Linked DNA regions of Homo sapiens: region 1 is linked to region 2. Evidence: fine-mapped QTL for protein levels in blood plasma. A gene starts in region 2. The other region holds a variant in brackets. All regions are shown on one strand. Distances are from middle to middle.

Region 1 (2,500 bases), 63 kb after region 2:
GGGAACGGGACTAGGAAAAAATAAGGCTTATCACACTTCAGCCCCGGCTGCCCATCCCTGAATGCTTAACCCATCAGACAGCAACACAATTACTAAATACGGTCGGTCTTACAGGGTTTCAACTTTACTTTTTGGTTGAATATGAAATGCCAAAACATGCCCTTGTGTTCAAAAAATACAATCTGAAAATGGAAAAACAAAATTAAGATTTCTTATTTTGAAGCTTTACTGATAGGCTCATGTTTGGGAGACCAAAGCAATGTCTTAGAATTTAAAATCAAGAAAGCTGGGCGCAGTGGCCTGTAACCCCAGCACTTTGGGAGGCCAATGTAGGAGGATCTGTTGCGTTCAGGAGTTTGAGACCAGCCTGAGCAACATGGTGACACCCACCTCTAAAAAACTTTTTTTTTTTTTTTTTTTGAGATGGAGTCTGGCTCTTGTTGCCTGAGCTGGAGTGCAATGGCACAATCTCGGCTCACTGCAAACTCTGCCTCTGGCCTCAAGCAAATCTCCTGCCTCAGCCTCCCGAGTAGCTGGGATTACAGGTGCCCGCCACCACGCCACCTTTGTTGTATTTTTAGTAGAGATGGGTTTCACTACCTTGGCCAGGCTGGTCGCGAACTCCTGACCTCAGTTGACCCACCCACTTCAGCCTCCCAAAGTGCTGGGATTACAGGTGTGAGCTACCGCACCTGGCCAAAAAATAAATTTTTTTTTAAACTGGGCGTGGTGGTGCACTCCTGTGGTCTCAGCTACTCACGAGGCTGACTTGAGCTGGGAGATGGCGGCTCCAATGAGCTGTGATCATGCCACTGCATTCCAGTCCGATCGAGAGTGAGACCTTGACTCAAAAAAACAAAAATCAGGCCAGACGTGGTGGCTCACGCCTGTAATCCCAGCACTTTGAGAGGCCGAGGAGGATGGATCATGAGATTAGAAGTTTGAGACCAGCCTAGCCAATACAACGAAACCCTGTCTCTACTAAAAATCAAACAAACAAACAAA[CAAACAAAA/A]ACTAGCCACGTGTGGTGGTGCGCACCCATAGTCCCAGCTACTCGGAAGGCTGAGGCAGGAGAATCGCTTGAATGCAGGAGATGGAGGTTACAGTGAGCCAAGACTGCGCCACCTCACTCCAGCCTAGGCAATAGAGGGACACTCCGTATCAAAAAAAAAAAAAAACAAAAAAACACCAACCACCACTACCACCAAAACCCAAAACCAAATAGCCAATAAATACAAAAAGGTGGTCTACTTCCCTGATCATTACAGAAATGCAAAAAAATAAAAATAAATAAATAAATCAACAAAGCAAATTCTGGGTGGGTATTTGCTAAAAACAGTCTAGCAGTAGATGACTGCAGTAAGTTGGTGGTGATGAGATGTAAAGGAATGTGGGTTGAATGTCAATTTTTGAAGTGAGGAGTGTTTTAATTCACGTTTCTTAGGTTTCACCATTGTTAAGACTTGATATTTTTCTAGAAAGTCCTCGAGTGCCATTGTTCACCAGGCAACCATGTGTGACACTCAAGTAAAAATACATGTACAGGCTGGGTGTGGTGGTTCACACCTGTAATCCCAGCACTTTGGGAGGCTGAGGTGGGAGGATAGCTTGAGCTCAGGAGTTTGAGACCAGCCTGGACAACATAGGGAGACCCCCCATCTCTATAAAAAATTTAAAAATTAGCTGGGTATGGTGGCATGTGCCTGTGGTCTCAGCCACTCCAGAAGCTGAAGTGGGAGGATCACTTGAGGCTGGGAGATCAAGGCTGCAGTGAGCTGTGATCATGCCACTGCGTTCCAGCCTGGGCAACAGAGCGAGACTCTGTCTCAAAAATGAATAAAATTGTGTGTATCTAGAATAGTAAGAAATTAGGCTCATTTTGATTATGGTTCATAAATAGTAACTGAGTATAGTAAGAGGATTATGATGGCAAGGTACAAATTAAAAATCTCAAGTTTTTACCTTCGCTCCCCACAGGTTTTCATTAAAACAACAACAACAAAAAAAATTAAAGAGAATACATAACTTTAAAAATATGACAGAGGTGAAAGCTACAAGAATTACACTGCATCTGATTTTATACTCACACAGTCTAATCCAAACTGAAGTTCTGAATGAACTTTTCCCAGTCTCCCTATTTGATTTCCTAGGTAAAGGAATTTAGTAAATAATGAGAACAGGGAACTAAAAGGTAAAATTCATCTTTAAAACAGTAATTTATCAACTTTTAAACTAAGAGTGAGAAAGCTACCACAGACTGGCTTTTATGTAGTAATAAAAAGTTTAAAATCACTTACTGTCAGCATCTGTTTTTAAAAAATGAAATACTTACCAAACTATATGCAAAAAGTATTTGCATTAAAAGTTGCCAGCTTAATCATGGAAAATCTCTTATAAGGCTGCTTAAAGGTTCATGTTTTTTACTAAAAATGGTAGACTGTGAGAATGTGTAAAGTCAATTTTTGAACTACTAGTACTTTTTTTTTTTTTTTTTGGAGA
Region 2 (3,017 bases):
TTTTCTCCCTATGATCTACAAGTTCTTGGCACAATTAATTATGTATTGGTGACTTTAAATTTTTTTAAAATGACGGGCTATCCGGGCTGAACCAGTTGATGGTGATGAAGATCACAAGGCTAAATTGGTAATTTGCAGCCACCTGGGTTCCAGCACTTCGCATTTCTAAAGCCTTGATATCCTCAGGATTTATTATCGCTTTCTGGGTCAATCCCAAGCACAAAGGTTAGAAGGTCTCCCTGCGTTCTCTCTCATTTCAAAACGAAAGCTGTTGTAGAGTGCGTGTGCTAACTAGATGTGAAGGCAACCGCAGAAGTCATAGCTCTCTGCAAGGACAAGTGGGACGGAACTTGCAAATAGCCGCCACAAACGCAAATGTCACCAACCTGCTTTAGACAGGAGTGGGAGGGGTCCTCTGGCTTCCTTTATCTCTAGAGTAAAATTTTTCAGCCATTTCAGTCTTGGTTGACTTATTTTGGCAAATAAACAAGTATGCCCCCCTCCACCGCCCATCCCCCAAGCCTGAGAGCACTTCAAGAGTTTGTAAAATAAAAAGCAACAGGAAACCAGAAACGCAGCAACGTCTGCATCGTGGGTCCCCGGCACAAACACAAGTACAAAACGCACACCCGCGCCCTTATTTCATTTCTAACGCCTTCCCAGGATAGGCATCATCTGGAAGAGTTACAAGCGTGGGAGGCGCAGGAAGGGAGCCCCAGGAAGTTTCTGTCTGTCGGGCGCCGGTATTTAATGAGGGGGTGTGCACCTATTTATACGTGGGCAGCGCTCGGGCAAACAAGTCTGGCGACATACGAGAAGCTTTTCACCCAGCAAATAATAGGAGACTGTGCAGCCCTGGGAAACCGCTCACGAGAGAAGGAAGCTGGGAGTTTAAGGAATTTCCTTTAAGGAAATTGCCCGTGGGGGCATCGGTTTCAGGGGGTAGGAGACGGGGGCAGGAGCCGGCAAGGAGCGGCACGGAAGGTCGGGGACCCCAGTCGGGCCGCGCCGGCCCCGGGAGCACCTGGATCCCCAGCCCCCTCGACCCCCGGCGCGCTGGGCTCGCGCACACCCAACCCCGGCCCCATCTCCGTCCCCCGCCGCCTCAGCTCCGGCGCTCCCGGCCCGCGCACACCCTGACCCCGGCCCCCTCAGCCCCGGCGCCTCTGGGCCCGAGCGCCCGGCGGGAGCGGGGAGCGCGGCTTCCGGTTCACCTGCGCGCCGGTCGGCTCGGGCCGCGGAGGCCGGCGGGGGGCGGCAGCGGAGCTCTCGGAGAGCCCGGGCGGACACAGGCCCTGCCCCCGCGCCGTCCCCCGCCCCTGGCCGGCGCCTCCCGGGCCCCAGCCGTTCGCGCGTGAGGGGTCAGGGACGCCGCTTGCCCGCCCGCCCGCCGCCGCCCGCCGCCCGCCGCCCGCCGCCCGCTCGCCTGGGTCTTGTCGAACTGCTCGCGCTCGGCCTCCAGGCTGTGGCCCGGCCTGCGGCTCAGCACCCGCGCCGGCACGTTCTTGATGCTGTTCATCCTGCCGCCGCCGCCCGCTTTTGTCCGGCTCCGTCCGCGCGACTCACAGCCTCACGGTCCGGCAGCCCCAGCCTAGGCACCGCGAGGCCACCGCGCCGCGCCCGGGCCCGCCCGCCGGGGAGGAGCCCGCCTCGCCCCGCCCCCAACTCCAGGGCACGCCCCTCCCCCGCACACCTCCAAACCCGCCCCCCGCGCCCGCAAACGCCTCGCCCGCCCCCAACTCCAGGGCGCGCCCCTCCACCCGCACACCTCCAACCCCACCCCCCGCGATCTCGGGACACGCGCCTCTCCCCGCACATCCCCAACCCCCCATCCCGCGGCGACCCCGGCACACGCCCCGCCCCCCGCACACCTCCAACCCCCACCTCACTCACAAGGTTGGGGCACAGGCCAAACGCCCCCCCAGCTCCTCCCCACCTCTAATCCCCTCCCTAAACCCGGAGGGGAGGGTAGGGGAAGGGGGAGGGGGAACCCCTCCCTCCTCCTTCCACCCAGGGTAGGGACCCCAGCCAATTCCCTCTCCCCACCCCTCCTCCGAACTCACTAAGTCTTGTCTGCACCAGGGCAAGATCTGGTTAATTGGAGAAAATCTGGCCTCCATGAGTCTGGTCGGTGGCAGCACAGATAGACGCTTTTTTTCCTTTTTGGTCTTAATGTATGTGTCAAAAGGCACACAATGACACTCTCCCCTCTTTGTGCAATTCTGACATAGCTGCAGCTGTTATCCATGCGGGGATGCAGGATGCATTTCCAGAGACGCCGCCGGCTCCGCAACCGGACACCTCGCCAGCTCCAGGGACAATGGGGGCTGAGGCCGGGCGCTGTTAGGCTGGCACAGAAGGCAGGCGGATCTGAACAGCAAAGTACACCGAGGAGATGCCGCCAGGGGTGGCGTGAGGCTTTTTAAAAACATTATTATTGGCTTTCCCTTAAAATTACTGGTCACAAGACTGAAGTAAAAAAATAAATAAAAGCCCAGAGTCCTCTCTAAGCGTAGCTCTCAGATGGGTATTGTGTTTCTGCTGTTTCCCTTTCCTATCGGAATGCAGATGTGGAATCATGCATAAAGGTCCCTTGCTTTTGAAGGGAGAGGCACCGCCTGCCTGTAAGGAGGAAAATGACGCCCACGTAATCCTGACCCTTGTCTCCCTAGTGAGACTGTAACCTGTCTGAGGTCAGAGACCCTTTCCTTTCCTTTCCTTTCCTTTCCTTTCCCTTTCCCTTTCCTTTCCTTCCTCCTTCTTTTCTTTCTTTTCTCTCTTTCTCTCTCTTCTTTCTTTCTCTTTCTTTCTTTCTTTTCTTTTCTTCTCTTTCTTTCTTTTCTTTTTTTTTAACCGAGCTTCACTCTTGTTGCCTAGGCTGGAGTGCAATGGCACAATCTCACCTCACCGCAACCTCCGCCTCCTGGGTTCAAGCAATTCTCCTGCCTCAGCCTCCCAAATAGCTGGAATTACAGGCATGTGCCACCACGCCTGGCTAATTTTGTATTTTTAGTAGA

Which allele goes with the higher level. Alleles are on the strand shown, and positions count from the first base shown. The strength of an association depends on the size of the effect and on how common the allele is.
As copies of CAAACAAAA replace A in region 1, the plasma level of the protein whose gene starts at base 1,613 in region 2 goes up (weak association).

What was found. PIP is the chance, under the fine-mapping model, that this variant and not a neighbour inherited with it causes the effect. The UK Biobank Pharma Proteomics Project read protein levels with antibody pairs (Olink). The fine-mapping took linkage between variants from a reference panel, not from the people measured, so its PIPs are less certain.
Region 1: its variant is fine-mapped to the plasma level of the HIP1R protein (UK Biobank, PIP above 0.99).

Annotation. Positions count from the first base shown.
Region 1 is chr12:122,771,401-122,773,900 of GRCh38, reverse strand. No RefSeq gene overlaps it. Among named protein-coding and RNA genes, the nearest start is that of CCDC62, 1.9 kb to the left of the region's middle. The variant CAAACAAAA/A (reference allele first, on the strand shown) is at 1,006.
Region 2 is chr12:122,834,053-122,837,069 of GRCh38, reverse strand. HIP1R (huntingtin interacting protein 1 related) reads right to left here and starts at 1,613. Exons shown (of 32, transcript NM_003959.3): 1 at 1,427-1,613. The coding sequence starts at 1,519. LOC124903040 (a long non-coding RNA gene) reads left to right here and starts at 1,837. Exons shown (of 2, transcript XR_007063501.1): 1 at 1,837-1,896; 2 at 2,232-2,515. RefSeq lists silencers at 1,102-1,301, 1,472-1,711 and an enhancer at 1,962-2,011.